2 separate regions of the Homo sapiens genome follow, and region 1 is linked to region 2. The links come from fine-mapping of genetic effects on gene expression. A gene starts in region 2. The other region holds a variant in brackets. All regions are shown on one strand. Distances are from middle to middle.

Evidence for each region. PIP is the estimated chance that this variant, and not a neighbour inherited with it, causes the effect.
Region 1: its variant is fine-mapped to the expression of CAPN10 in whole blood (TOPMed, PIP 0.97).

The regions. Positions count from the first base shown.
Region 1 is chr2:240,551,500-240,567,190 of GRCh38, forward strand. ANKMY1 (ankyrin repeat and MYND domain containing 1) reads right to left here and starts at 6,489. Exons shown (of 18, transcript NM_001282771.3): 1 at 6,382-6,489; 2 at 5,691-5,853; 3 at 3,367-3,556; 4 at 1,415-1,558. The coding sequence starts at 5,836. It overlaps DUSP28 (dual specificity phosphatase 28), which reads left to right and starts at 8,858. Exons shown (of 2, transcript NM_001370465.2): 1 at 8,858-9,578; 2 at 9,831-13,757. The coding sequence starts at 9,186. The coding sequence ends at 9,968. RefSeq lists silencers at 375-474, 6,429-6,648, 8,707-9,116, 9,297-9,346, 14,952-15,191 and enhancers at 3,683-4,183, 5,316-5,385, 9,443-9,584, 9,617-9,686, 9,717-10,076 and 2 more. The variant C/A (reference allele first, on the strand shown) is at 8,083.
Region 2 is chr2:240,577,402-240,593,092 of GRCh38, forward strand. It overlaps CAPN10 (calpain 10), which reads left to right and starts at 9,333. Exons shown (of 12, transcript NM_023083.4): 1 at 9,333-9,651; 2 at 11,942-12,073; 3 at 13,414-13,610; 4 at 14,532-14,749. The coding sequence starts at 9,511. It overlaps CAPN10-DT (CAPN10 divergent transcript), which reads right to left and starts at 8,915. Exons shown (of 1, transcript NR_103792.1): 1 at 5,349-8,915. It overlaps RNPEPL1 (arginyl aminopeptidase like 1), which reads left to right. Exons shown (of 11, transcript NM_018226.6): 11 at 198-3,971. The coding sequence ends at 491. RefSeq lists enhancers at 7,080-7,149, 7,520-7,889, 8,880-9,059, 9,111-9,405, 9,344-10,170 and 2 more and a silencer at 9,370-9,599.

The sequences.
Region 1 (15,691 bases), 26 kb before region 2:
ATGCGAACCACAGTTCTTGCTGTGCTTTGTGTGGGTGATCAGGGCACCAGGAAACTGAAGCTTATTTTGCAAGTAGGTTGTCCTACTGTTATTTGTCTTTGATGCAAGTGGGGGAATGGAAAGAGATTGTCTTTTAGAAGAAAACTCTATTTAGATTAACCTTTGATTCCTAAGTGACCACATGGTCACCCATGGTATGGAGCTGCCCACAACGCCCCTCCTCAGCATGGAGCAGCCAGAAAGACCCACAACCTGATTCCCCATGGTTGAGGAACTGATAAACAAAAAGGGGGGACTGAAACCAGCCCAGTAATCCTACAGAGAGTTGTTTCCAGATAAACATAGAAATTGACCCTTCTGGTCTTAAAGCTTGAAACTTAAATTTGTTTTATCTGAGTTTCTTCCTCAGGAAAGACCTTCAGGCCTCTCAAAAAGTATCAAAGAGCTGAAACTCCTCTCAGAAAGTATCAAAGAACTGAAACTCACCAGACCATGGCATTCAATGTGACTCCAGGCCCTTTGTTCACCGTGACTGCTTCCTCACCCCTCCCAAGTTCCTGCTTTCTCACACATTATTACATTTCTTCCTTGATATATAAACCCCTAGTTTTAGTCAGGGGGATGGATTTGAGATTAAGCTCCCATCTCTTCAGCTGCACCTCCAAATTACAGCCTTCTTCCTTGGCAATACTCATTGTCTCAGTGATGGGCTTTCTGTGCAGGAAGCGGAAAGATCTAGAGCGAACCCCTGGTGTTTCAGTAACAGCCACTCATATTGGCTCAGAATAAACCTCTTTAAAATATTTTGCAGAGTTTGTTTTTTTTCTGTTGACACCATTAATATGGCATTCTCACAAGGGCAAAATTCTAGGCCAAAATAGATCAGCCACAGTTTGTTGAAGGAGACATTTATTACAAAGGCCATGGCAATATTTTGAGGGTGATGGAACTGTTTGTATATCCTGACTACAGTAGTAGTTACACAACCCTGTAATTGTCAAAAATTTCAGAACTATATATTAAAATGGGTGAATTTTACTGTAAATTATACTGTAATAAAAGGGGGAAAGGCATCTGTATTTGAAAGACTAGGCATGTTCTCCATTTAAAAAGGCACATTTCAAACATTATGTGTACAGTGATCCAGTTTACATATTTAAAAATAAACACGTGCGTTTCTTAAATCTAAAGGACATGTAACAATTTGCTGGTATCCCTCTGGGGAATAAAATGCAAGGAGGCTTTTATTTTCAGTCTATATCCTTATTATTGGTACCATTTTAATCATTAAAAGTAAAAAAGCTACTTGTAGCTAAACAAATAAACTTCCCCAGGACCGAAATATCTTTTTGTCCAGTGGCTTAGACACACACAGCCACTTCGACCCCAGCTGAACACATGGCAGCCCCCTCACCTGGAAAAGCCGTGTCTTCATGTACATGGTGCCGTAGCCTTCTCGGTGGCTGAGGTAAAATGTGCCCGTGAAACTGGAGCCATCTGGCCACATGTAGGTACCCAGGCCATGGCAGTGGTCCCGGTAAAACTGCCCATGGTATGACTGTGAGATGGAGAAGTTGGTGAGAAATTGCTGCTCTTCCAGAACCTGACGGGATGCCCTTGAGGCTGAGCCACCATGCCTGGTTGGCAATGAATGGGGACCACCCAGGGCTGTGGCAGAACTCAGGGATGCCTGGCATGCGACTATTAGAGTCGGCAACTGAAGCACCCAGAGGGGTTACCAGGCAGTCAGCCTGATAGCCAGGCTCCCTCTCTGTCTTCTCCTCAGGTGGGGGACTGTGGGGAGGCTTAAAACTACCTAGACATCCTGAGTCAGGAGAGCACGGACATGCCTTCTCCCTGGTGACCTTGATCTTAGGTTTGGAGGGTCCTGTCCCCACTCAGGAGCCCCATGCTGCTGAGCTCCCTGCCAGGTTCACAGGTGACAGGCTGGCCCTGGAAGGCTGGCTGTAGGCCCCAGTAGGCACAGGGGAGGACTCTGATTTATAACTCTTCAGCACTGGTTGGACACGTGAGCTCCACAAACAACAGGAGTGAGTGTATCAGAGCCTGCCCCTTTACCAAGGCCCCCAGAGGGAAAAAGAATGTGACATTTGGCCGGGTGTGGTGGCTCACATCTGTAATTCCAGCACTTTGGGAGGCCGAGGCAGGCGGATCATCTAAGGTCAGGAGTTCAAGACCAGCCTGACCAACATGGTGAAACCCTGTCTCTACTAAAAATACAAAAATTAGCTGGGCGTGGTGGTGCATGCCTGTAATCCCAGCTACTCAGGAGGCTGAGGCAGGAGAATCACTAGAACCCTGGAGGCAGAGGTTGCAGTGAGCCGAGATTGTGCCATTTGCACTCCAGCCTGGGCAACAAGAGTGAAATTCCATCTCGAAAAAAAAAAAGAATGTGACATTCATGACAAGGGCTTCCAGCCAGGAGACCTCATGCTGAGTGCCAAGCACCACCTTTTTCTCAGAAACAGGGTGGGCCTGGAGTGCCCGCACAGCCATCCATGCTCACAGTCCACCCAGACCTGACCCCGACGTGAAGGGCATGGCAGTTTTCACAGCTTAGTGTCCCTTCCCTTTCTTCTGACAACAGATGCCCTCTCCCTACAGAGAGGATTCCCCAAGGGACCCAGCCCCAGTGCCTGGGCCAGGCCTGGCCAACCAGAGGACGCCTTACCCCTGCCCCATCTTGATGCACTTCATGCATCCCCAAGTCAGACCAGCGTCCTGCTGGGGCCTTTCTCTTTCCCAGGGGTGTTTGATGCCACCCCCAGGGGCTGGGCAGATGGAACAAGGTCAGTCTTAGAACCCCCTCGTGGAGATGGAAAGAGAGAGGACCTAGTTACATCATTAGAATCCTGGATCCAGCCAGGCCTGAGGCTACCTTACCCCTGGACTTTCCATGGCAAGCGCCAACAGAGGCCTTTTCAGTTTCAGCTGCATTGAATGTGGGCTCAGGACCTAGCCTGGGGGTGCAAAACTTGTTCTCATTTTGTCTTTTAGAACATTCGCTGCCTTCTGCTTAAGCCTAGACACAGGCAATTTCACCAAGGTAAATATACGAGTTGCTATGGCAATTCATAATTTTAAAACGTCTGCCCAGAATAAGAACTTATCTTCTTAAGTCACAGCTTCCCAAACCTCATCCTGGGACCCCAGCAAACCATGGGTGTGATTTTGGAAGTTGGGAAAGATGCTTTTCTCTGGACATTTCTCAAGGAGGAAAAACTTTAGCCTAGCACCCTTCCTGTTGATGGGCCTAAAAGTTCCCGTCCCATCACTCTTGGAAGGATAAAGGCCAGCCACCAGAGGCCCTAGGGGAGGAGGCGGAGAAAGTGTGGAAGCAGTTACCTCGCCTGTGGGCCAAGAGAATTTGCCATATCCAAGCTTCATGTTCAACCCAAACTCCCCCTGGTACATGCAACCATCCTGCCACTCCTGCACACCCTGGACGAGCTGGATGTAGGACTCCCTCAGGTCCTGCGCCCTCAGCGGGCCCTCAGCTTCCTCCTCTTCCTTCTCAGGGGCTGCTGAAACATCCCTAAAAGGACAGGAGCAGAAGGAGGGAAGAGTGAAGTGGCTGCAGTGCCTTCAGTGACTGCTGAGCACAACCCCCGAGCACAACCCAGCATCTCATTTCATCCCACAGTCCCGGGGCAGGTGCCGCTGCATCCCCACTCCACTTGGAGAGAAAACCGAGGCACAGAGGGTGCAGCGATTGCCCAAGGCCACACAGGAAGTGGAATGCACAGTAAGGCTGCCAACGGATAGGAGAGATGCTGCCAGGCTCTAGAGGCAGGACCAGTCGGCCTGTCCAGCCCGGGCCTGCTGGCGGCATCTCCTGAGATCGATGGCCCTCTGTCCCACTCCAGCTGCCTGCAGGACGTGGGTGCCCACAGCAGGGTCCTCATTCAAGGGCCAGGAGTGCCAGCCCCAAGCTGGACAGAAAACAGACTGCCCACACATGTGGACCCATGGAAGGTCGGAAGGCAGCTCGAGAGGCAGCCAGCTCATACTAGGATGGACAGGTGGATAGGTGGACAGATGGATGGATGCAGGGCTGGGGAGTATGCTGCAACAGCGGGGAGCACAAACCAGGGTGGATTTGCCGTAACTCATAGGGCGTCCACAGACAGACAGGGCATGTCAGACCCCCCACAGATGGACAGGGCGTCTCAGACCACCACAGACGGATGGGGCGTCTTAGACCATCACAGACGGACGTGGCATCTCAGACCACAAAAGGCGTGGTGCCTCAGACCTCCACAGATGGATGGGGTGTCTCAGACCCCTACAGAAGGACAGGGCATCCCAGACCAACACAGGTGGATGGGGTGCCTCAGACCATGAAAGATGGACAGGGCATCTCAGTTCCCCCCCAGACGGACAGAGCATCTGAGACCCCCACAGATGGATGGGGCGTCTCAAAGGGCCTTCCGTTCTCAGCTGTGCAGGGCGGCCGTCCCTGGCCAAGGTGCCAGCAGCGTCCCTGCCTAGGGAGGGTCCTCTTCCTGGCCTGTGGAGCCGCCTTCTCATTGGCTCCCCACATGGTAGTGAGAGAGGATGGGGGAACTCTGGGCTCTTCTGCTTCTCATAGGTACACTCATCCCATCATGGGCTCCATCTTCACCACCCCATCTAAACCCAGCCACCTCCCAAAGCCCATTGTTGGGAAAAGGGCTTGTGGGAAAAGGGCTTGTGGGGTGCCTGCATAAACAGGCCATGAAAATATGGGACAATAAGTTGTGGAAAGCCACAAGAGGCCTCTGAGGAGGAAAGCCTCCTAATTGCCATCATGTTCCCATGCCCAGAGCGAGATCCGCTCTCTTATCTGTAAACACTGTGTTCAAGGAGAAAGACTCTCCTTTGAAGCCCTGGACTGTGGACAGACATGCAGGCTCCTAGCTAAGCCCGCTCCCACCAGTTACTCTCCGATAAGTTAAAAGATATGCTGTTTGAGCACAAAGGAGATTCACTGAAACCAATATTGCTATAGATTACACCTATGACACACTGCCACCCTTTCACTGTTTCGCCCTGAACATCTGCTTCTCAGATCTAAGTGTGCTCAATAAACAGTGTGGAGACCAGAACTCTGAGCCCTTTGCAGCCTCCATTTTGCAACTGGCCCCCTGGCTCCCCACCTTTCAATTCTTAACCTGTCTCTTCTCAATCCTTTGTCCCCACTAGACTTTGGGCACTCTACGGGTGGTGTTGAGGCTGGTCCCCAACACCCATCACACTGGGCCAGGGCTGGGACTGAGTTTTGGAGGCCCACAAACAGGGACAAGCACGATGGGGTGACAGGGGGACCTCGTGAGATGCTGCAGTGAGACTCCAGGGCAGCCCCTGGCTGTGAACAACAGAGCTGTGAAGATGGAGACAGCTTGGGAGCCCCATCTCGTGAGGGAAACGTTCCCTCCCTCCACTAGGCGGCGACACGGGTGGCAGAGTGTGCAGGCAGGAAGGGACATGAGAAGGTTCCAATTACCATCTATTGTCGTTTTCCTCAGTAGGTTGCTGACACAGTGTTGAGGCTTTCAGATTTCTCCAGAAACTAGTTTCTCAGGGAGTAACACAGTTCAGGGATTTTTACTGCTTGCCTTAAGGAGAATCCCGGCTAACCCTGGGCCCCAGGTCAGGGTCGGACCTCCCCGCTGGAGGGTCCCCCGCACCTTGTGGCGAAGACAGCGTAGTTCTTCAGGGACCCCGGCTCCTCGGCAGCAGGGGTCTCGCCGCCCTTCCCCTCTAGCGGGCGTTGGCGGCTGCCAGCCCCAGAGACTTCGTCCTCTAAGCTAAGGGAGGCATGGGCCCCTTCCATGTCTGTGGTCTTCCAACCTGCAAGCGACGTCAGGACCGCACATGTGCCCCCAGGGCTCCCGCCGCGAACTCAGAGGGCGCCCGAGGCCCGGCCCGCGGCCCCTGAGCCTCAGAGAACCCAAGCCCCTCCCTGAACCGCGCCGGAGCCTGGGCCGCCACCCACAGGTCCCGGACCACCATCCCTGGGAGTCCTCAGGGAGACCTGTCGGAACCATGGGTAAACTTCACCCGCGTCCCCAGGTGTCCCTGTCCCTTCGTGGGCGGGAATCACAGCAAGGGCGGTCGCGGCCACGTGGCCAGGCCAGGCCCGCACCCACTATCGCCCAGGAGGCGCCGCTAACAGCGGGTCTCAGCCACGGGCCTCTGAAGCCAGCGCTCGAGGGTGGGCTCGGGAGACGCCGCGCCCACCTAACCCCACGCCCCCAGCCCCTCGGCCCCTCCCTGGGGTGGGGACCGCGAGCCTGGCGCCCCCCCGCACCCGCCGCCCCACGGAGCTCCGGGATCCCCCTAGCCCCGGCTCCCAGCGCTCCTGTCGCGAGACCGCACCAAGCAAGACTCGAAGAGCTCGCGCCGGACAGCAGGGAGACCGACGGGACTGCAGCCACCGCGGACGCCCGCGCTCCCGTCCCGACTGCTTGCCAGCCCTGCGCCTACGGAGAGCGTCGCGTTTCCCTGGAGACAGCCCCGCCCCATGCCCGCTGCCACTCTCCGGCTCCGCCAATCCCCCCGCCAGGACGCACCCGGCCCCGCCTCCGGGCGTGCCCGCCCTCTGTGACTTCAGGGGCTTGGGGCCGACACCCCGCGGGCCTCGGTGCCAGCCTCCCGCTTACCCGGTCAGCCCCTGGGCCGAGTACCCCTGGGAGAGAAAGCGCTAAATTCCCCCAACACTCCCGTGATGGGGGCACAGGGAGCGCCGTGGGACACCTGAGGAAACTGAGGCCCAAGTGTTAATTAACTTGCCCTGATCACCTAGCACGTGGAGCCACGACTTGCTCAAGCCCTGCCTGATTCCAGCCCCGGCCTTTGTTCATTCAGTAAATGTGGAAGGCGCAAGGGTAACTCGAGGCCTGCGGAGGGAACGAGATGAGGGAGGCCGCAAGAGTCACCGCAGAGAAGAGGGATTGGCTGTCTTGGACCCTCCGAGGGCCTCGGGGAAGGACTGCAGGAGAGCGGATTCTTGATGGGGCTTCACAGGATGCGCAGGAGCTCTCCAGGCTACAGAGCGCATTTCAGGAACTGGACTGGGATGTACAGAGGCACCATGGTGGGAAACAGCTGGGCCTTCCTGCAAAGAGGGGAGAGGCTCTTGGAGGTGCAGGGCTTGCGTTTTCTCAACCCAGACTGCCTCTGAGAACAGGGCAGGGGGTGTGAAGAGCTGATGCCCTGGCCCTCCCCACTGGCTAGCTTTCCGGGGACTAAGGACTAAGGCTGGGCCAGGATTCTGGGGTTCTAGGGGCTCTGCCTCCACACGCCAGTGCCTGTCTGTTGAGTTCACTTCTCTCTAAAATCTCATTTTACACCACGACCCAGTACAAACCACTCAGAAAAATGTTTCATTAAAAGTTCGGCATACTACATGCATGCACTCTAATATTTTCATGTAGTCTATTATTTCTCTAAAAACTAAAATGCTGATCATGACCCACAGAATTGATTTCACAACCCACATTAGTTGTGAATTACAACTTGCTAAGGAGTCAGAACCAACATGTAGAAACCCTCTGTTCTTAGCAAGCACATTCTGGTTACACTGTGGGGGACTAGCACCAAGTCCAGGAGACAGAGGCTGGCCCAGACTAAGTGTGGCAATGAGATGCAGAGACACTTAGGATGAATTGGTTCCCAATCCATTACCTCAATGGAGTGGGAGCATGATGGTTCAAGTAGCAGGCTTTGGAGCAGAAAACCCACCTCAACCATCCTCCAACCGTAAAGGGTGATGATGATTCATGAAACAGTCCAGGAGGAGGAGGGACTTCAGGTTTTGTTTGATTCATTTCAGTGGCCCAACAGTGGCATCAAGGACCTTGGCTCTCCCATCTCCTCTGCTTTCACCCAAGGCTGGCTTCCCCTTATGGCCATGAGAGAACAGAGGAGCCTTCCAAAGTGCTCTCTCCTTCATGGGTTATTAGACACCAAGCTCATTCCCAGAGCAGTCACGGGAGTGTGGCCTTCACTTTTGGCCAGAGACAGAGCCAACTCCTAGAAAGCGGAGGGAGACAGTGTCCCAACCTAATCAATGGCTCC[C/A]ATGAACGCCAGGGAAAAAAAGGGAATTCCACTCCTCCATCCTAGGAAAGTTGGAGTCCTTCCTTAGGGTGGAGGAAGTGGGAAACAGATGCTGATAAGACCTCCACGGAGGTGATGTCTGGAGCTGCAACCAGGGAAGACCTGGCTGCAGACATATTTGAGTCTTTAGCTCAAGAGTGAACCCCAGGCTGCAATAAAGATCTGACAGTTACCAATGCTAGAAGGCTGATGGACAAAGCAATGACGATAACCCAGAGAGAGACTGTATGCAACTGAAACTTCAATTGCTAAATGTCTGTAGGGCTGTTGAGACAGTTGCTTTTCAGTGTATCCATTGCCTGAAAATTACCAGATGTCAGAAAAATTGAAGGAGTCTTAAATGGCAATTTCATGGACATTAAGTGATATTAAATTTTTTAAAGTTACAATGCTGACCCCAATAAATTACTTAGAAACAGCAAAAGGAATAGTGTGGTCTATGAAGAAGTGATGAAAATAGAAATTAGTTTTATTTTATGAGCCATGTGTTATAATACATAGAAAAAAATGCACCAATTACAAAGCGGGCCACAAAAAGGAATAAACGTAAAGCCGACAACGCAGTCACTAGGGAAAGGGTGAAGACACGGGAACCACGCAGCCCGCCGTCCACGTGCACCGGGTAGCCACGGGGCCCTAGCCGAACGACGCGGACGCGAAGTGGGCGGGCCCGGCCAAGCCACGCCTCCGCGCCAGACGCCGCAGTAGAGCGGGCAGGGCGCTGCGCCCAAGAGCCACAGACGCAAGCCCAGTGCCACAGGCCGCGGGGGCGGGGAGGACGGCGCCCGGGGACAGAGAACATGGGACGCAGAGCGGTCCAAGGCCCCGGCGCCCTGGTGAGGCCCAAACCTCCCGCCATGCCCCGGCCCCAACGAGACCCAAGCCCCCTGTCCCGGCCCAGCGCCCGCGGGGGACCCAAGCCCCAGCCTGGTCCACCTCGGAGGCCTCTAGGACCCGGGGGCGCCCGGCGGCCCGCCCGGCTCCCACAAATAGACTCCTGGGCGGGCGCCTGAGCCCCCAAAATAGATCCTCAGGGCCCAAAAGCAGACTCTTCGGCGGGCGCCATGGGACCGGCAGAAGCTGGGCGCCGCGGGGCCGCCTCGCCCGTACCTCCACCGTTGGTGCGCGTCGCGCCCTCACTCTTCCTCGGGAGCGCGCGAGCCGCGGGCGCGGAGGAGCAGCTGGCGCGCGCGGGAGTCACGCTGTGCGTCAACGTCTCCCGCCAGCAGCCCGGCCCGCGCGCGCCCGGCGTGGCAGAGCTGCGCGTGCCCGTGTTCGACGACCCGGCTGAGGACCTGCTGGCGCACCTGGAGCCCACGTGCGCCGCCATGGAGGCCGCGGTGCGCGCCGGCGGCGCCTGCCTAGTCTACTGCAAGAACGGCCGCAGCCGCTCGGCCGCCGTCTGCACCGCGTACCTCATGCGGCACCGCGGCCTCAGCCTGGCGAAGGCCTTCCAGGTGGGCGGGCCTTTAGGGGGGCGGTGTTTCGAGAGGGGCGTGTCTTCCGGGGACGAGTTTTCCGGGCGGGGCCGGCTTCGGGATTGGGACAGGCACTTCCGGGAGGGGCGGGTCTCTCTCGTGAGGGCGGGCTTAGGGAAGCAGAGAGGCACTTCCGGGTTGGGCGGGGCCCACTCTTACAGCTGGGCCCGCCTTGGCCCCTGCTGGCCATTAGCGCGACTTGGGGTTATTCAGTACACTTCTTGTTTGCAGATGGTGAAGAGCGCTCGCCCGGTAGCAGAACCGAACCCGGGCTTCTGGTCTCAGCTCCAGAAGTATGAGGAGGCCCTCCAGGCCCAGTCCTGCCTGCAGGGAGAGCCCCCAGCCTTAGGGTTGGGCCCTGAGGCTTGAAGCTTGAAGGCCTGCTGCCTGGAGGAAGGATGTCCCTGCACTGATACAGAAGGCTGGTCTTTACCCTTCTTCCTCACTGTCATATCGAGTTTTCCTTTGTGTGTGTGTGTGTGAAACATAGTGCTTTTAATTTTATATTTCCGGCTGAGGTGATGCACAAATTATCTTACAGACACAAAAAGAAATACATTTGGTAAAACATCGAAGACAAATTAAGAAAAAGCAAATAGGGATCCTCCATTATTTACACTCCAGAATCTTGAGTGTTTGGGGGTGCCGGCGCATTCTACCAGTCTCAGGGAAGGACATGAGTACAGACTACAGTAATCAGAATCTGAGTCATAGGTGAAATCAGGAAAAGCAACTCTTCTTGTGTTTATTTTTAGTAGTGTCATAAGAACGGACTAGTTCTTCCTGCGTGACCACGGATGCTTCTGTTTGAGAAAATGCATACCCACGTGGGACATTTAGATCAAGAAAGCTGTTGATGAAGACATTGTTGAAGGGCAACTTGGGTGATTGGGGAATTATTCTCTTCATCAGCCCCTCTGCAATACAGCTGGAGCTGTCCCATAGGAGTTCGGACAATTACGGACATCCTTTTTCTTTCTCTCTTTCTTTTTTTTTGTTTGTTTGTTTGAGACAGAGTCTCTGTTGCCCAGGCTGGAGTGCAGTGGCGCAATCCCGGCTCACTGCAACCTCCGCCTCCCTGGTTCAAGTGATTCTCCTGCCTCAGCCTCCTGAGTAGCTGGGACTACAGGTGTGTGACACCAGACCCGGCTAATTTTTTGTATTTTTAGTAGAGATGGGGGGTTTCACCATGTTAGCCAGGATGGTCTCAAACTCCTGACCTCGTGATCCACCCACCTCAGCCTCCCAAAGTGCTGGGATTACAGGCGTGAGCCACCGTGCCCAGCCTCCTTTTTCTATTACTAGAGAACTCCAGGACATTAAGAATTTCAAAAGTGATTTTTTCACCCATGGCTTCTACGGTGACAGAGTATGGTGTTCCTGTAGGGAAACAAAGCCAAGTTTTTTTGCTCCTTTCACTAAAGCTGCTTCATCCGGGGAGGAAGCCTGGTAGATTATAATATTTCCAGGGATAACAGTGTGGCACACAGATAACAGGGTAAGAAATTGGTCTATATAGTTTTCTGTGGGATGGCCATTCTCAATGTTCTCCAATAAACTGGGGTAATTAAAATATCAGGGCTCGGATGGAAGGTGTTGCACCATAAATGACACCTGCAGTGGTACTTGTTAAATGTCTTAACATTGCAAGTGAGGGTTCCCATTTTATCAGAAAATAGAAATTTTACCTGCCCAAGTTCTTCACTGAGATTGAATGTGCTGGCCATGGTGTGGACACTATTTACTTTATAATGCACATCTTGATCCCAGTTTATAAACTGGGCCTGAATATATTTCACAATTTCCATAGTGACCAGCAGACTAATGGGGATGAGGTACTGTTATAAGATGATGAACACCAGTATGTCAAACACAATGCTGTGAGCTGGAATCCTCTTTCAGGTACCAAATGTCACCATACTTTTTATTCCATAGCACGGCTCCCACGCAGCTCACTACAGACATGACCAGAGCAGCAGGAACCAAAGGGAGACCCGCCCATTGTCACTTTCTTAATCTCTGATCTCTTGAGGTGATTTGACAGAATTCTGCAGGAATTTGGTTTCAAAGCCAGTGTAAACAACTATGCCAGTGATCCACTGAGCATTTCTTTTTTTTTTTTCTTGAGACGGAGTCTCACTCTGGTGCCCAGGCTGGAGTGGGCGCCATCTTGGCTCACTGCAAGCTCCGCCTCCCGGCTTCATGCCATTCTCGTCCTTCAGCCTCCTGAGTGGCTGGGATTACAGGCGCCCGCCACCACGCCTAGCTAATTTCTTTGTATTTTTGGTAGAGACGGGGTTTCACTGTGTTAGCCAGGATGGTCTCAATCTCCTGACCTCATGATCCTCCCGCCTCGGCCTCCCAAAGCGCTGGGATTACAGGCGTGAGCCACCTCGCCCGGCCAATCCACTGAGCATTTCTAAGCTGTGTATCTCTTAACAAGACCCAGTCAGGCCCTATTGGAACAGGGCTTTTACCACCTAGGCGGAAGCTCAGCCATTGAAATGACGATCAGGTGCTTCACGGTCTATTTTTCCAGATAGGCCTAACAGCTGGTTTTCTGTTTGCATTTCAGCTGTTTCTGGCAAAGCCTGCCGTGTCTTACATTTGTCTCTCTATCCGGATTAGATGTTGCTATATGAACACATCGGGACTGTGTCTGCAGGAAGGAGCTCCCCATTCGAGGCCTTCACAGTGTCACCCACATTCACCTCTTTCCACTTAAACGTGTCCCATGAATCTTGTCATAACAGTTTTGTGTTCCTTAACTATTTTGTCTGCCATGTCATTTATGATGTATATAACCTCTTTAATGCCTGAAATCATAAGAATAATCATCAAAGGCAAGAGGGTTGTATATTTTCCCGTTGGAGACACATCTGGAATTTGCTGCAATAAAATAATAATAAGAAAGCATTGGCAGCTTTGGTAAACTGCAGATTCAAAAATCGAGGGAGAAATGAGCACACGCTGTACTTGGCTGTACATATAATTGCTGACTGTGGGTTGCAGAAATTTCTCTCAAGCATCATCACCACTTTTGCTCAGTTATCAGTAGTAATAACAGCAATCAAAACTGAAACTGCTCCAGATGCCTGTCTAGGAAGTATGGTTTTCCATCCTTCCTACTGCTTTCTTCACAAGAGAATCCTCCACCTCAGTGGCCCTGAAGTGGCCTGAAGGGCCCGCTCTGCGGTCCTGCCACCAGTGCCCTCTGAGGTCCATGGTCCCACGGCACCACGGCCGCCCAGTGCACTCGCCTCCACACTGAGTTTTCATTTTTCCCAGTTAAGCCCCATCTTCCGGAAATGCAGCTCCAGAGGGTCTCTGTCCCCTCTTGCTGGTGGGGCAAGGGTCTGCGCATCAGACCACATGGACCCCTGCACCACCATCTGCTCCGTCCTCTCCCTCTGGTCAGCTCAGCTTATTAAACAAGCCTTGGTCAGGAAAATCTAAACCACTTAAGGAACTGGGCAGAAAGAAACTGAATGCAGGGAGAAGAAGGCTGGGGAGCCAAGGACAGGAGAGGAGACATAGGGGAGTCACAGGGACCTGCCACCCAGATCCCCACTGCCTGATGTCCTGGCTGTGGAGGGCACCTGGAGCTGCCAGCAGAGCCTCCTGCCCACCAGCTGCTGAAGCCACAGTACATCTCCTTCCTCCCACCTCCCAGACCTCTCACTGGTCTCATCTGGGCACCGAACATGGGAAGCCCCTCCTGTGACAGGCAGGGGAGAAGGAGGCTGTGCTGACAGACGGCCTGGTGAGGGAACCCGGGAGGCCTCCAGCATCTGCACCCCTCTCCTACTTTGATCTCTGTTTCACCAACATTGCACCCCAACTTAAGGTCACATAGCTACTGTCAAGCCAACAAGGTGCTGCCTCTCCCGCCGTGTGAGGGTGGAACCCCATAAGCCACCACTGGAGGCATCCAAGCATGTTGATTCCTTCTCTAGTTCAGACACCACCTCTCCTGGACATCCTGTGGCCTAAAGACTATCCTAGAATCAACACTCCTTAAATAGGAGTGGGGAAAGAAAAGGAAAATGTGTGTAATACATGTGAATCACAGATAACGTAGTCATTGGTTAATATATACAACTACGCGTATTTACATTCTGTATGCGTCAATGAGTAAAATACTGTGGTTGGTGCTTATCTGCCTTTTCCAATACTCGTTCCATGTTCTACCCTCAGCCAGTGCCTAAGCTGCTTATGGCCTTCACCTGGTGGCATGACTCGATCCTTCATTTTTAAGGCCCCAGGCCCTGCATGGCTGCCCACACAGGTGCTGTGGCCTCCGTTACCTGTACTGCACCACCAGAGAGAAGTAGGAGGCACCACTCTTCCTGGCCCCCAAGCCTCACAAAGCCTCATGCCCACCTGCCAGAGCCAGCCCTGTGTTGTCTCATGCTTCCGTGGCTGGGCCGTGTCTGAGCCACCCTCCCAGTGAGACCCGATTGTGTTCCTAAGCAAAAGCATCCCACCTGGGGACCGAACATCTCTGATGCGGCAGAGCCCAAAGCTGGGGGGATGGGAAGCACGGGTTTTGTCAGCCAAGCGTGGGGGTGGTAGTGAGAAGGGCCTTCTCCCTCCCCACGCCTTGTGTACCTGGGCCTCAAGCATAGGCCACACCTTGTTGGTCGCTGCCCCTCTATGCCGTGTCACCAGCCGGCACCACCCATCGCTGTGGACCGCGGCCCCCATCACAAGCTGGTGCCCAGGGCAGTCCCCATCTCTGTGGAGGGCTTGCCTGCCGCTGGCCTCTCTAGATAAGCTCCTCATGACTCATGCAACCTTTTCATCAACCCGGAAGGAAGCAGCCGCCGGTCGCCACTAGTGGGTGAGGAACAGTGGCTTGGAGAGGAGGGAGGACCTGGGTCTGCGGTTTCCCCCGCGGCTCAGCCCTGCTCACAACACCCTGATGAAAACCTCGGCTGCCCTTGCCTCAGGGCAGGGCACACCCTTTACCTGCTGACCTGGCCCTGGTGACAAGGGGACAAGGGCAGCAGGGCCCCGGCCAGGTTGAAGGACACCTGTGGGTCACATCAGACCTTTTTAGCCCACCAGCTCCATCTGAGAACTGGTAGCTCCCTGGTCCTCTGTCGGGGTTGGGCGCGGCCCTGTCTGAACACTGCTTCTTCCTGGAAGCTTTGCTGCCCTCCCCAGCCTGCTAAAACGCTCCATGCCCACACCCACCTCCTAGTGGGTGAAGCCAGGAACCCCTCCCTCGGGTGCATCAGGGGAAGGCTGGGGTGCAGATGCCGCGCAGCCACTTCACTGCGCTGATCACCAAAAAGCTGGAGTATGAAAACTCCTGTGGGAGAAAGCCAGGGCTGACAGTCGCGACGTCCAGGCTCCTCTGCCAGGGTTAGAGAAGTCAGAGGTGTCTGCCCAGGCCTGCATGCGGCGTAGCCTCCCGCCGCCAGGGGGCGTCAGGCCGGCGGGGGCGGGGCCTCCTCGGGCGGGGCGGGGCGGGGCGGGGCCGGCGCGAGAGGCTCCCGCGGCTCAGTTGCAGACCCCGCCCCCTCGGCTCAGCCGCGCCTCCCGCTCCATGGGGTGCAGTAGGGCAGCTCCTCACATACGTGCGCGGTGGGAGGCGCTCCCTTGGGCCCCCGGGGAGGAGGTGCCACAGCAACTCTGGACTCCTGTGTGCAGAACTGGCCGCGGAGAGGTGCCCAGGGCGAGACCCCAACCTCTGCTCCCTGAGCCCAATGCGGGGCTCTGGGTGGCAAGACCCCAAGCTCCCTGTGGTGACTTGCCCCCCGGACGGCCAGGCCCAGCTAGTGTGGCACCGCGTGTGCAGAACTGAGGTTCTTCCAGCCAGGAACATGGCCCGGTGGGCTCTGGAGAGCCCCGTAGAACTGGGGGTGCCATCGAAAACAGTCTGCCCTTGGCACTGCAGGGCCCCACCGGGCAGGGCGCTGGGGGCAGTGAGGAGGGTCCCATCTCAGCTGTCTTCCCTGTCAGCCTTGGATGCGAGGCTGATCCACACCTCTGAGTGACTGTGTAAGCCTAGGGGTTCCTGGTGAGTTTGGGATGGGTGCCCCAAGATCGTGGCCGTGTCCCTAAAGAGGGCACGTGGGGACCTG
Region 2 (15,691 bases):
CTCCATGGTTGGCCTGGAAGGGCAGGGTGGAGGTGGGAGGCTAATGGTAGGCCTCCTGGCCACCGGAGTCCAGGCCACAGCCCTAATGATGAAGCTGGGAAGCCAGGGGCAGGAGGGCCGCCTGGCCGGGCTGGCAGGGTGGGCTGGCTCGAGGGGCCTGGGGAGCCCACCAGTGTGACCGAGTGCCCCTCCTGCAGATGTCACGCATGTACACCATCCCGCTGTACGAGGACCTCTGCACCGGTGCCCTCAAGTCCTTCGCGCTGGAGGTCTTCTACCAGACGCAGGGCCGGCTGCACCCCAACCTGCGCAGAGCCATCCAGCAGATCCTGTCCCAGGGCCTGGGCTCCAGCACAGAGCCCGCCTCAGAGCCCAGCACGGAGCTGGGCAAGGCTGAAGCAGACACAGACTCGGACGCACAGGCCCTGCTGCTTGGGGACGAGGCCCCCAGCAGTGCCATCTCTCTCAGGGACGTCAATGTGTCTGCCTAGCCCTGTTGGCGGGCTGACCCTCGACCTCCCAGACACCACAATTGTGCCTTCTGTGGGCCAGGCCTGCCATGACTGCGTCTCGGCTCTGGCCATGAGCTCTGCCCAGGCCCACAAGCCCCTCCCCTGGGCTCTCCCAGGCAGGGAGAATGGGGAGAGGGACCTCCTTGTGTCTGGCAGAGACCTGTGGACCTGGCCTCCCCACTCCCAGCTCTCTTGCACTGCAGGCCCTGGGGCCAGCCCGCACACACCATGCCTCCTGTCTCAACACTGACAGCTGTGCCTAGCCCCGGATGCCAGCACCTGCCAGGTGCCGCCCCGGGGCAAGGGCCCCAGCAGCCCTATGGTGACCGCCACACTGTGCCTTAATGTCTGCCGGGGGCCCAGGCTGTGCTGTCCCTGCAGCACGCCTCCTTGCAGGGATCTGAGCCACCCTCCCCGCACAGCCCTGCACCCCGCCCCTGGGGTTGGCAGCCTCAGTTGGCCCCTGGCAGAGGAACAAGGACACAGACATTCCCTCAGTGTGGGGGGCAGGGGACACAGGGAGAGGATGGTTGTCCCTGGGGAGGGCCCTCTGGCCCCAGGCAACCTTAGCCCCTCAGAACAGGGAGTCCCAGGACCCAGGGAGAGTGTGGGGACAGGACAGCCTGTCTCTTGTAGCTTCCTGGGGTGGGAGGCACAGGGGCAAAGCAATACCCCAGGGAAAGTGGGAGGTGGTGCTGGTGCTCTCTCCAGGCCCACCATGCTGGGAGAGGCGGCCAGAGCCTGGGGCCTCCAGCCTGGGACTGCTGTGATGGGGTATCACGGTGATGGTCCCATTAAACTTCCACTCTGCAAACCTGATCTCCTGCGCTCTTTCTCGCGACTCTTGTCCTCTGCATCTTCCTGGCTGTGTAGGGTGGGCTGGCCTGCCGGGACTTGGGGCCTGGAGCTGGTCAGGAGCTGGGTGTGGCCCCCTCCTCTGATACATAAGCCCGAGAGCAGGCTCCCCGAATCCTGCCCAGCCCCTTGGCTGGACCCCCTGGGCCTGAGTAGCCTCTGGATGTCACAGGAAAGCCATGTGTCACCTTCACTCTGGGCCTTCACCTGTGGCTTAAGCCAAATCCCGGCCTCAGTGGTGATCCTTTCCCAAGATGGGTACAAGGTGACAGGCATGTTTTGTTTTGGAGAACTGAGATTTCCATTTTCCCAGGCGATAGGTGTCGCTGCCCTTCACAGTCCCCAAGGATGTGGCGCCACCATCTCAGTGCCACGCACACCTGGCCAACATGCCGTGGCCCAGAAGCAGCACGTCTCTTCTCCCAACCCGCTGGCCAGGCCCAGTCACAGCCCCACTCCACACATGGCAGCCAGGAAGTGGGGAGGGCAGGAGGTGCTGGGCAAATAACCCTGATACCATCACTGTCCAGTCCCCAGTCACCAAATGTCCCACTCACCCTCCTTCCTGTTCTGGATGCCCCGCCCCTCCCCTCCCCTCCCAAGGACATATGAGTCCCCTCCAGTGGCGGTGGCAACTCTGGTCTAGGGTCTGGGGCCGTCTCTACATGTGTTGCTTCATGTACCTTCTTCACATCAGGTCTGGGGGAGGCGCCACCCCATCCAGAGACCTAGGAACTAGAAGACTGCCACTGCCCCTCACACCCAGGGATAGGATGACTGCAGTAACCCCTGTGAAAGCGGGTATGGAGGGCACCTGGCAGCCCCTGCTGCATGGCCATCTAAAGTCTTGCCAGGCAGGCACAGCTAGGGCCCCTGCCTGGGAGTGGACACCCCACTCCCCCAAGTCATGTTCTCTGTGGCCTGGGGCTCCAGCCTTGGGAGGACCCCTTTCCTGTTTCTTAACCATGCTTGATGGTGTCCTCAAAGGAGCCCTGCTCAGTGGCAGAACTGCTTTCTCAGCCTCTTCCCCGCCAAGGTTGTTTTCAAGTCCCAGCAGTCACAGACTTTCATCCTGGGCTCTTCTTTCTTTTGCAATTCAGCTCTCGAAATGACTCTGTGGTCTGCGGGTGACTCCACTCCACGTGCCTACAGCCACGCCCACAGCGCCACCTCCGGACGCTGCTGAGCTGCGCACCTGTGCCTGACACCTGGCTTTGGGAAACTCAGCAGCAGTGCCCAGCGTCATGACCCTGGGGGCAGGAGGGCATCTGGATCCAGGATGGCACCCTCACCACAATCTGTCTTGGCTCTGTGCCCGCCCGTGGGGTACACAGGAGGGCTCTTTCAGCCCTAAGTCCTTGTGTTCCTGACCTTTGTTCCTCTTCCACCCAGCTTGCAAGTGCAGAATTTTTTTTTAGCTCGTCGCTTCCCTGCAGTCCCTTGTCCAATGCAGCCTCCGGCCGATACTCAGGCCAGTGTTGTTTCCCAACCTCTCCACTAGATACGCACACTTAGCTCACGGTCTGCCTCATGAGTCATCCCAGTTGAGCTTTACCAAATGTTTTGCCCCACCTAACAGCCTGCCCACATTCCAAATCCTGGCAGGTCGCACGTTTTATTAGCACAGCACCCCTCTCCTAGCGGCCAGCTTCTCTATTAGGCCACGTTATGCTCCAGCCACACAACTATGAAGCGCAGACGTCTCACACAACAAAGCTTTCTCATGCTGCAGGCCCACCTCAGGCTGGCAGGGGAAGGGGGGATTCTCTTCAATGTGACCACTCTCGGACCCGTACCGATGAACAGAGATCTCAAATGTTTCCAGGCACCTTGCCAGGGATAAGAGAGCTGTTGAGGGGCTCACACTGGCAGTGGAAGTTCTAAGGGGCCTACAACCACAGGGGCTGCAACCCCACCATATGCACAAAAGCGGGGGCAGATGGCAAACAGCACTAATGACAACGACGGAGCTGAGGCCAGAATGTGAGAGAGATCTGCATTTTGGGGATTAGGGCCTAGTCAGGCAGGTAGGAGATGATGTTCAAAAAGGGAAAAGAAGCGTGATGAAAGACTGGTTTCTACAGAGATAGATTAGAAAGCTGAAGCCTGAAAAAACAGTGAAGGAGACCCATGCAAATTTCTAGGCCCTGGAGGTCCAAATAAGGTTTTCTAAGTCCCTCAGGCCATGACAGGTTCAGTCCAGACTTGTCTCCCAGAGTGTTTCTCTGCCATCCCTACTCTAACTGGGACTTATTGGTGGTGTTTCTCTCCTAAGGCCAGATGCTTTGCACAGAACATTAGGAAACTCCAGATGTAAAGGTAAGGCACAACTGAGAATCACCTGCCCAGGGCAGCAACACAGTGTGAAGGAAAACAGGCCACTCAACCCAAACTTACACCTGAGACAGAGGCAACAGAAAAATCAGAAAAGGACTTTAGAACACATATAATCAAAATCTCAGACCTAAAGACGACTTTTGAAATAAACCATAACATATGAAGAGGCACTTATGAAACAAGAACAGGTAGTTTATAAAAAAGAACCAGTCAGAGACCCTGGAAATTTTTTAAAAAGCAATTACTAAAATAAAAAATGAAAACTCAGTCAACAGTGCTCTGGTTTGGATGTTCCCTCCAAAATTCATGTTGAAATTTAATTGCCATTGTGATGGTATTAAGAGGTGGAACCATTAAGAAGCGATTAGGCCATGAGGGTTCTGCCTTGATGAATGCATTAATGTCATTATCAGAGTGGGTTCGTTATCATGAGCATGTGTTGTAAAAATGAATTTAGCTGTCTCTTGCTGTGTGTCCTCTTGCTCTTCCATCTTCCCCCATGGAATGGTGTGGCAAGAAGGCCTTTACCAGATGCCAGCCCCTCGCCCTTGGACTTCCCAGCCTCCAGAACTATAAGAAATACATTTATTTTCATTATAAATTACCCAGTCCGTGGTATTGTTATAGGAACAGAAAATGCACTTGGGGATATTAGGTCGTGGAGAGTAAAAAAAAAAAAAAAATAAGTTCCAGTCAATCAAGGCATCCTCATTCTCAACATTGCCTGCATTCTACCCTCCAGGGGTCCCCTCCATGGCCCTTCATCTGCCCCCACCCCGCAACTCAGCCTCATTTCTTCAGCCATTTTCTCCCCCACATCTCTCTTCCCTTCCCATCAGACCTTCACATCCTGCAAGCTAAGCCACCTCAACTAGCCATGCCCTCAGGGCTCTTACTCAAGCACCCACCAAGATGTTTTTCCTAACAAAGACTGTCCTTTTACTAAGAGGAATCTGATGTCAGCTGTTAGTCTCCGCTCCCCCCCACCCCCCATCTCTCGGAATAATCACCTGGTCAGAGAGAAGCCCAAGAGCACGGACATGCCAGCTAAAGGTGGAGCTTGGCAAGGGTGTCCACAGAGTGGCCAGGCCCAGCACAGATCCGAGGGGCTTTTAACAGGCACAGGCAGAGTGCTAAGGAGATCACTACCACCCACCCACCCATCCAGCCAGGCCCAGATAAACCTCTCCTTGTTCCAAATGAATGAGCAAACAGAAAAATTCCAGTGTGGAGGGAATACAACACCCACAATGCAGAAAATAGCCCACATCCAAAATATGCTCCCCTCAGATAACTAGTCAACTGTGCAAACTATCTGCATAATCCTCACAATAAAGTTGAAGAACACAAAACCACTTCATACAAAGAGTTAGGAAAAAAATTCCTATAAGGAGGAGCATGTACCATATTTATTCCCACTCTGTTTACTAAGCATGTATTATAATGAGAAAAAAAGCTCAATCTAAAATATTGCCAACAAAGAATCCATTCCTCACGTTGCAGTAAATGAAGCGGGCTGAGGTCAGCCTCCTTTTATGCTGGCTGCCCCAACTCTAAGGAGTTGATGCGTCCTACTGTTAACAGCGGAGGATGTCCAGGTTCTTGGCGTCTTAAATAAAGAATTGGACAAAACACACACAGAGAGCAAAGAAGGAATGAAGGGATTTATTGAAAATGAAAGTACACTCCACAGTGTGGGGGTGAGCCTGAGCATAGGAGCACAAAAGCCCTGTTACAGAACTTCAGAGAGTTTAAATACCCTCTAGGTGATTCCATTGGTTACTTGGGGCACACGTTATGTAGATGGAGAGCCTGTTACAGAACTTCTGAGAGTTTAAACACCCTCTAGGTGATTCCATTGGTTACTTGGGGCACACGTTATGCAGATGGAGAGGATGAAGTTACAAAGTCATTTGCTTGGCCTATGTCCTATGGAGAAGGTATTTCCTATCATAACTGAAGTGTGAATCAGCCTATGTTCCCTGCACTCAGACCCTATTTTCCTGCCTCCTACCTACAGCTGTGTGGTCCTGAGCTGTCACCTCTTCCCTTTGAAGCTCAGGTTCCTCATCGGTAAAATGAGGCAGAAATACTCACTGCTGAGATGTGTGGGGATCGCACAAACTCAGTGTCTCAACATGTTGTACGTGTGTTTTGGCCCTCTGAGCCCTTGAGGGCTGCCCCAGGTGGAACCCTCTTCACTTTTCTTGGAGAACTGACCATGGGTTGCAGCAAAGCCTAAAATGGTTCCTGTTTCAGCCCTGCCTGGGAAGATTCAGCTGGAACCTTTAGGCTAGGAAAAGGTTCGAGAAGGACCCTACCCCCACTGTGCCCGACCTGAGACAAATCCACAGAAAAGCAATCCTTGCTAACTCTGGGCAGTATGTGGACAAGATACTAATTTTTAATCTCTGCATCTCCATGAGAATGCAAGGACCAGCACAGTGAAGTGCCCAATGATTGCCCCCTGAACAAACGGAGATGTCAAGTTCAGAAAAAATCCTGGCTGAGGAAGACAGGGAACATTCCCTTGAAAAACAAGGGCAGTCATCCAGACAGAGCAAGAGGAGTGGCAGGATAAGAGGAGGCAGACAGGGTTGATTCCACAGGGCTCCTCCTCAACACCCATGAACCTGAGAAGTGGTCAGATGCGTTTCAGGCCACTGGCCAGCAGTGGGGTCATGGCGGGAACTAGTCCCACCTGAAGGACTCTCATCTCCCTACAATCCCCAAACGCTGAGGCATGGGGATGCTCTTCCCTCCTTGAAGTGAGGGCCCCGAGGCTCTCATACTTTAATTACAGTACTTCAGACCAAGAGCCTGCAGTTGAGGAGGCCAGGGTCATGAATCAGCTGCCCCCCAAACTCCTTATCTCACCAACCCAAGCTGCTTACAACCCCTCCAGATATCCCAGGAGCCGGGGGGAATGTCATTCTTCAGGGCTGAGGGAACATCTTTGCACCCTGGGGTAGCAGATGGGACCACAGGGCATGTGGAATGTCTTAGTCTGTTTCACACTGCTATACCTGAGGTTGGGTTTGTTTTATTTATTTATTTATTTATTTAGAGACGGAGTCTCGCTCTGTCGCCCAGGCTGGAGTGCAGTGGTGCGATCTGGGCTCACTGCAAGCTCCGCCTCCCGGGTTCACACCATTCTCCTGCCTCAATCAGCCTCCCGAGTGAGGGGCTGGGACTACAGGTGCCCGCCACCACACCTGGCTAATTTTTTTGTTTCTTTTTTTTTTTCAGTAGAGATGGGGTTTCACCGTGTTAGCCAAGATGGTCTCGATCTGACCTCGTGATCCGCCCGCCTCGGCCTCCCAAAGTGCTGGGATTACAGGCGTGAGCCACTGCGCCCAGCCAAGGTGGGGGAATTTATTTTTTTAAAAAAGCAAAACAGGTTTATTTGGCTCAAAATTCTGGTGGAAATTTCAAGATTGGGCAGCTGCACCTGGTGAGGGCCTCATGCTACTTCAACTCAAGGCAGCAAGTAGAAGGGGAGAGGCATGCACAAAGAGATTACGTGGCCATATGGCGAGAGAGGAAGCAAGAGACAACCGCAGGAAGGCTGACTCTCTAACCAGCTCTCATGGGAACTCACCCCTCCACAAAGGACACTAACCTATCCATGAGGGATCCACCCCTATTACCCAAACTCCTCCTACTAGGCACCACCTCCTAACACTGCCTCATTGAGGCTCAAATTTCAATACCATTTTGGGCAGGGGCAGACCACATGCAAATCACAGCATGGGGTAATAGTGGGGGCAGGTTGACACAGGGCTGCTGCCTACCCAGCACCAGCTGTCTCTTGGCCCCTTCCAGATCCTGGCAATCTGGCTACAGGCATGGGCCCAGCCTTGGACACAGATGTGGCCACAGGAAGCTGTTAGCTCTCCAGATCTGATCAGCCTGGGAGAGCGGCACAACAAAGGCTCCCAAAGGAGAGTCGGGATCCTCAGCTAGCCTCAGCTCTGCTACCCACCCATATGTGCCCAGAACAGGAAAGATACGTGTTTCTTACTCCTCCGGGACTCCTAGGTGAAGCTGAGACCAGGCTCTTCTTGAGTCCTCTCAGCTATGGTGCAACCACCAGCCTAGCAAGGAATCAGAAACATCTTCCGGAAGAGTCAGCACCATAGAGGGTGCTGAATGGGCAATGAAGCATCCCGGAGATGAAACATCTGGGCAGTGAGGCATCCCACAGGTGTTGGGCTATGCAGTCACTCCCTTTCTCAGACCGAGGCAAGTACATAAGCACTCTGGGCCCCTAATCAGGGGCCTGGGGCCAGGTGGGATGAAAACAGCAGTGTCCTGCCACCTGAACAACTGCTACTCACGCAGGCCCCACCTGGCCTCTCAGAGGGAGGAACCTGGGACTCCTGAACCAGATTCAGTTTCTCCTTCAACAGCCGGGACTTTTCGCTCCTGACTGCAGAAAAACAGCTTCAATGTGACCATCCTTGATAGTCCGAGGCTGAGTAAAATGGCCTGAGGAGGCAAAATCTGAAAAGCTCTATTAGGTGGCAAACTGCTGTCACTAGAAGAGTTGAGGCCCCCTTCTCCTCCCCTGCCTGACCGCCTTCATTCCTGGGAATGGAACAGGTTCTTGGGGCAAGGGTGAATCCTCGAGCAGGTCCCAGGATCACTATCCTCACCTCCCCGCGGCACTGAATGGCTATAGCTGTAAATGTGCGTCCACGGGGTCACTGTCCAGCCACCAGGACCAGGTGCCTGGCCATCTGGGGAATCGGAAAACGCTCAGCGGGATGCTCTGGCCACCTCCCCTGCCCCCAGTTAAGATGTAGAGCGTTCAACCTAAAATGCCTAGAAACAAAGCCCAGGCCCGGGAAGGTCGAACGAGTGCGACGCCGCTCCCTCAAGCTCTTCCCTCGGAGCCGTCTCATTTCCCAAAACTCCCAAACACATCACAGAGAGAGGTGTTGAGCCAGGTGGTCACTCCCTTTTCCAGAACCACAGCAAGAAGTTGAGCCTGCTGGGCTCCTAACGAAGGCCCTGGGGCCCGGTGGGATGAAAAGCCCTATTAGGTAGCAAACAGCTGTCACTAGAGGGGTTGAGGCCCCCTTCTCCCCTGCCTGACGACGACGGCGGCAGGAACTCGACCGGCGCCGGACAGCTCGCAACTTGCCTTACCAAGCGTAAATCTCGGTTCCTCCCAACTACCCGCGGCCACGGCCTCCGCAGCAGAGCGCCGGAAGCAGAGACGCGTTTCGGGAGGAAGGTGCATGCTGGGAGCGGCGGCGCATGCTGGGAGCTGTAGTCTGCGACGCAACTCGGCCGAGGTGGCTCCCTGGTCCCTGAAGCTCCCAGAGCCCGCGTGTTCAGGCGGTCCCGACACCCCGGCCCGAGCCTCACCGGCTGGAGGACTGAACGCCTGCCGGCCCTCCGGGTATGAGCGGAGGCCGGGATAGCCCTGGGCTCCGCCGCCCCCGGAAGGAAAAAATACAGTGCGGTCCGCCGCCCGACCACGAAAGAGCGGAGCTCGGGAGCCCCGCCCCCTGGGCCTCCGACGTCCGTGGCGCTTTCCGTCGCGCGAGTGCGATTGGGCCGCCTGTCACGTGACCCGAGACCCCACGCCCGGTTGGCTGCCGCCTGGTTACCAATGGGAGACTAGCGGGCCGGCGTACTGGCCTGGTCCAGCACCTGCGGGGCCCTCGGGCTTGGAGGGCTGGGCCGGGCGGGGAACGGGCGGGGCGGGCCGGAGGCGGCGGCGGCTGACTCGCCTTCTCTCCGGGGCTGCGACCCCGAGGCAACCGGCTGCAGATGGGAGCCCGCGGAGCCGAGGATGCGGGCGGGCCGGGGCGCGACGCCGGCGAGGGAGCTGTTCCGGGACGCCGCCTTCCCCGCCGCGGACTCCTCGCTCTTCTGCGACTTGTCTACGCCGCTGGCCCAGTTCCGCGAGGACATCACGTGGAGGCGGCCCCAGGTGGGGCCGTGTGGGGTGCGGTGGGCGCCGTTTCTGGTTTCTGAGATCTCCGCTCCTCGCAGGGAGCGGGGCGGGGTGGGCGGCCAGGGTAGCTCCGAACGCAGGGTCCGCCGTTGTTCTCCTCAGAAGTGGGCGCCCGGCCCCCTCTTTTCGTACCTCCTTCATACCCCCGCCCAGAACGAGCAGGACTCGGCGCTACCCTAAGGACGCTAAACTAGGTCGTGGCCTCCGCCTGCGAGAGCTCCAATCCAGGAGGCTCAGAGCGCTGCGAGAGGCGTTTTAACAGAGCCCCAAACCCCGCCCCACCTGTTTGCTTTCGCCCTGAAGAGCGTTTGTGTCTGCTCCTCCCGCAGAGAGGGCCGCTCGTGCCCCTCTGAAGTGGCTAGGCCGAGCCCACAAAGCAAAGCGTGATAGAATTTCAGTTTTGGATTTTGTGCACCTGCCTTTCCAGTTGTAACACCTAGAAATGGCACCTCCAAGGGATGCCCTGGCCGAGTGCTGTGTTCATATTTTTAGAAATGGTTTATCTGCTGAATAAGACTGCCCAGGGAGCAACCTTGCCCTAAGTGGATGCGGTCTTAGCGGAGACAACTGATGGCCGCCAGTCTTCGAACAGAGCTGGAACTTCTGGGCTCTCGTGACTGAGATGGCTTTGACAGGCCACCTGGTTTCCTTGGACAACACTGAAGGGCCTGGGAGGAGGCAAGGGTCAGACCATGTAGAGCCTTGTCATTGGAATTTGGGTTTTATTTTGTTAAAAGATTGATTTTAGGTGCAGCTGGAGGCCACTAGAGGGTTTTGGTAGAGGAGTGGTTCTCTTGGATGTGTGTTTTTACAAGCTCACTCTTGCTGCTGGGTGGGAAGTGGGTTGTCGGGGCAAGAATGCAAGGGTCCATTGTAGTGGTCCTGGAGAAAGATGAAGGGGCTCAGATTAGCTTGACGACTGTTAGGATGTGGGTTTGGAGTAGATTGGTTTGAGACGTACCTTGCAGGGGGGATCGAGAGGCCATAGTGACTGATTGAAATAGAGGGTGAGGATAGTGGAGGGATCAACATGCCTTCTGGGTTTCTGGCCTGAACAGGTGGGTGGATGGTGGTCCTGGGACAGAGCCTGGGGGTGACCTAGAGTTGGGCTTTGCTCTCACGTCTTCAGGTGGAGCTGTCCTGGAGGCAGGTGGATCTGTCCTGGAGGCAGGTGGATACGGAGCAGGGATAGGCTAGAGGCATTCTTCTGGGAGGCGGAGCATATTAGATGGTTTACAGTCCACAGCCTGGGAGAGTGTCTCGGGGGAGTATCAGTAAAGAAGAAGGGGGCCTTGGGGCTGAGCCTTGAGGAACCCTAACATTTCTTGGGGTCAGGCAGGTGCCCTGACAGATAGACTTGAGAAGCAGCAGGCAGTGAGGGAGAGGACACCCGGGGAGCATGCGGCCTCACAGAAGCTGAGTGGGGACCACCTCAGGGGCAGCAGATGGCTGTTCTGCTGTTGTGAATGCTGCTGAGTAGTTGGGGAAGAGAGTTGGGACCAAGAGAAGCCCAGTGGGTTTGATAACATAGAGGTGACAGCGACATTGATCGAGGCAGTTTAGGGGCCATGATTGGCTCAGAAGCTAGAGGAGCCTGTGTGGAGAGTGAATGGGAAGCAGGTAGTGGGCATGGCAGCTCTTTCAAGAGCTGTAATGAAGAGAAGCCTGAAGGAGACTATGGTGCTGAGAGATAATGTCTTAAAGAACATGGGGGTGGGATTCTGCCCGGGGAGCTGGAAGGGAAGGAGTTGTGAGAGGAGCCCAGGCTCTGAGGGCAGGAGAGAGGGTCAGGTCCAGAAGCAGGAGGCAAGGTCGAAGCTCAGAGGGGTGGGCAAGGGCAGTGTGGATGTTTTGAGTAGACGGGGAGAAAGGGGAAGGTATATGATAGTTAGGGGGTGTGGGAAATGGAGCCTGCTAGAGAAACAGATTTCCAGCAGGATGGAGGACACATTTGAGATTTACCAGCATGAGTAAAAAGTGAAACTTTTCGAAGCCAACATTTAGCTGTTTTGAGAAGGAGCTTGCTAGAGTTTGGGATTTTTCCAGTAAGGAAGGAAGGCACCCCAGAATTAAGCTGGACAGAGGCATTTGAAGCCAGGAGCTGAAGGACACCCGCTGCAGGAAACCACCTTCCTGTCCCTTTTTGGGTAACACTGATGATCGGAAAAGCTCCACCCCAACTCCTGTCATCTAGAGCCTTGGGTTCTTAGTTTGAAGGGTTCCACAGCAGGCATGATCTAACTCTGGACAACTTTCTGTATCTCAGGAGATTTGTGCCACACCCCGGCTGTTTCCAGATGACCCACGGGAAGGGCAGGTGAAGCAGGGGCTGCTGGGGGATTGCTGGTTCCTGTGTGCCTGCGCCGCGCTGCAGAAGAGCAGGCACCTCCTGGACCAGGTGCGGGGCCCCTTCCCTGTGTTTGTCCTGGAGCCGGTTTCTTTTTGCGTTTCTCCAGCCTGCTGAGTACCAGGAGGCCTTGCGAAAGCAGAGCTGTGCCGCAGCCGGATCTCCTGCTGTGTTGGGGGAAGGCAGGAGAGTTCCAAGGCAGAGGCTGAGGACTGCACTCTGTCCCTCTGCTGCAGGGGGGGGTGCCTTGGCCTCGCCAGAAGGCTCCATCAGGGAGGTTCGCCCTGCTCTGTGCTCTCCTGACCCCCGGACTCCATGGAGTCAGATCACCACGTTTAGAATAAAGAGACAAATGTGCCAGCTCACAGGAGGACGGGGCTGGCTGGCAGCCTCTGCCTCAGATCTCTCCTCAGCTAGCTCGCTGGTTTTCTTACAGGTTTTGAATATAAGTTTGCAAAAAGTTATTAAACCTGTTTCTGTGGGTAGACAGATACTCTGGGAGGAGAAGGCCTTCTCAGGTTTTCCTTACCTGGGAGTGTTCACCGTTTTATGCTTGGCTTGTTGCTAAGTGTTGCTGATTAATGCAGCGGCGTCAACAGTGTGACCTCATTCAGAGTTTCACTCATGTCCCAGGCCCCATGGTAAGCGTGTCACAGTCACTGGCTTTCAGACACATGGTCTTACCAGCTTTGACTTTTTTTTTAAACGAGAGTGCTAAAATCACTGCCATTGTGTTTCTGGCCGTAAAGTGGCAGAGCCAGGACCGCACCAGGTGCCTGGTGCCCAGCCTGCACTCCCCCGATGCTGGGTCAGAATGCTTACCCCTGAAGGAGCCCTGCGGTGGACGCTGTGGGTGCAAGCAGCTGGCCCAGTGTCGGGGCGCCAGGCTCCCAGCAGCAGGAGGGGCTGCTGTTCCTGTGGTGACGTGTTGCTTGCAGCCAGCTCGGTCAAGAACTGGGTCACTCATGCCCTTGAATGTCACATTTGTTTTGGCTTCAGGTCAGATGCTTTTAGTGAGGGCAGCAGAGTGTGTCCCGGGATATGTGGCTCCCTCGGTGTGGTCCTCAAGTTTTGCAATGAGAGGTCTGTTAATTTCATGTGGGTGATGCAGCCCTGTGCAGGCGCCGACATCCAGGTGTGCCGAAGAGTTCTCTGCGACATCCAGGTGTGCCGTAGAGTTCTCTGCGACATCCAGGTGTGCCGTAGAGTTCTCTGCGACATCCAGGTGTGCCGTAGAGTTCTCTGCGACATCCAGGTGTGCGTTAGAGTTCTCTGCAGACCGCGGTGCCTGTGGAGCACTCAGCTGTGGCCACACCGCGGCCGGGACACTGGAGTAGCGCCGGGTGGTGCTTATATCACGCTCGCCTTTTGCTTCTCCCTGTGCATGGCAGGTCATTCCTCCGGGACAGCCGAGCTGGGCCGACCAGGAGTACCGGGGCTCCTTCACCTGTCGCATTTGGCAGTTTGGACGCTGGGTGGAGGTGACCACAGATGACCGCCTGCCGTGCCTTGCAGGGAGACTCTGTTTCTCCCGCTGCCAGAGGGAGGATGTGTTCTGGCTCCCCTTACTGGAAAAGGTCTACGCCAAGTGCGTGTGCTGGGGGCTGAAGGGCCTGGCCTGGGGCAAGTGGGAGCTGCCACTACCATGGGCTGCCCCAGGAGGGTCTCTGCTCACTCTGGGCTGCAGAGCCCCCTTCAGTTCTGAGGGTCTGGCAGCTCATTCTGTGAGTCAGGCTGACAGGCCAGGTGCAGAGATTCTTCTTTTGGGCCTGTGGATTGCCCACTCCCTGCTTTCCCTTCCCTTGTTCCAAAGCCCAGCGTGGAGTCGTTCTCCACAGAGAACATGTGTGCCGTCCTCCTTATTTTATCGGCCCCAGCAAGAAAGATGCTTCTTTATATTTGTTGTGGAGTGGTTGGGACAGGCAGACTCATTGTGTAGTCGTTGGGGAGGAATGAGGCTACCCCAGCATACCAACACTTGTGTATCACGGTGCTTGCTGGCTCAGGGGACCAGGACCCTCACCATGAGTCATAATTGAATAGCCTTCCCTCTTAGAATGCATTTGTCTTCTTGCCAAAGGCAACTGGACTGACAGGCAGGCAGGGAAGCTGGTGAACATGGGAAGGCTGGCTGGTGACATCAGTGCCCAGTGAGCCCTTCCATCCCAAGGGCTGTTTTAGGAAAAGCAGGGTTGGAGCTTGAGAGCCAAGGGATGTGGGCATCCATAGCTTCCACGCCTCCTGCCCTGCTCCTGTGCCCACACCGGATGCCAGAGAGTTTCTGTGTGTGGGCAGAGGACTGCAGGGCGCTCACGCTTGCTGTGAAGTAAGGCGTTTGAAGGTGAGGCTAAGCCTTGACTTGGTGAGGATGAGGAAGAAGGCAGAGGGGAGTAAAGAGGTGGGATTGAGGCAGCGGTTGGACGATTTGGGGTGCTACAGACCATGGGAATCAGAGAGGGGGCCATGCTCAATGCCAGAGGCTCACTCCCATGGTGATTGTGTCCCCTAGGGTCCATGGGTCCTACGAGCACCTGTGGGCCGGGCAGGTGGCGGATGCCCTGGTGGACCTGACCGGCGGCCTGGCAGAAAGATGGAACCTGAAGGGCGTAGCAGGAAGCGGAGGCCAGCAGGACAGGCCAGGCCGCTGGGAGCACAGGACTTGTCGGCAGCTGCTCCACCTGAAGGACCAGTGTCTGATCAGCTGCTGCGTGCTCAGCCCCAGAGCAGGTGAGGCACGTGGCCAGCATGGGAGGGCTGCAGCCAGCGTGCCCCCCACTGCCAGGCCTCAGGCACACTGTAGCTTTTTATGTGACTGGCTACACAGCCCTGTCAGGACTAAGTGGGAAGAAGTAAGCTTGTTCTCAAGGGTGGTGTCCTCAGTTTGTGACCTTCCCCTACTGTCCTCTTCCAGAGGGACGTGGCCCTTCTCTCCCCTGACCAGTCCTTTCCACTAGTGCGAGGCAGGAAGAGGTGGCACCGAGTCAAAGCCCACTGTCTGTGCCATCCCTGGCCCAGCTGGCAACCTGGCAAAATCAAAACCTGTTTTTTATTTTAGTGATAGATAACATTCGTTAAAAACAGTTTGTCTCCAAAAAATGAAAGGGGCCAGGTGTGGTGGCTCACACCTGTAATCCCAGAACTTTGGGAGGCTGAGGTGGGAGTATCGCTGGAGCCCAGGAGTTCAAGAGACCCGCCTGGGCAACATGGCAAGATCTCATCTCTACAAAAAATGAAGGAAAAAAATCACTTAGATGGAACCACATGTGACTTTTGAGTGCGCTCTCAGTTTTCCATGAGCACGCACGGTTTACGTGTTCCCTTCCGCACCGCTTCTCACACTGCCACACACGCGCTGTCAAATGTTCGCCCCATGAGCGGGTTTGCCACAGTCTCTTAATCATTCCCCTGATGTTGGATATTAAGATCTCTCTGGTTTTATATAATTATAAGCAGTATCAATGAACATCTTTATCATTTTTTTCATACTTAGGATTATTTTAAAAATATGGGTTAAAGAATATGAATATCACAGTAAACTGAAACAAGTTGTCATAGGCCTTGGTCTGGGTCCCCCATAAGCAGACCCTGAGATGAGGTTCAGGAGCACGTTGAGAGGTTCAGAGAGCCTGGAGGGCGTGTACTCCCCGCCAGCCCCGCTGGGGTGCCAGG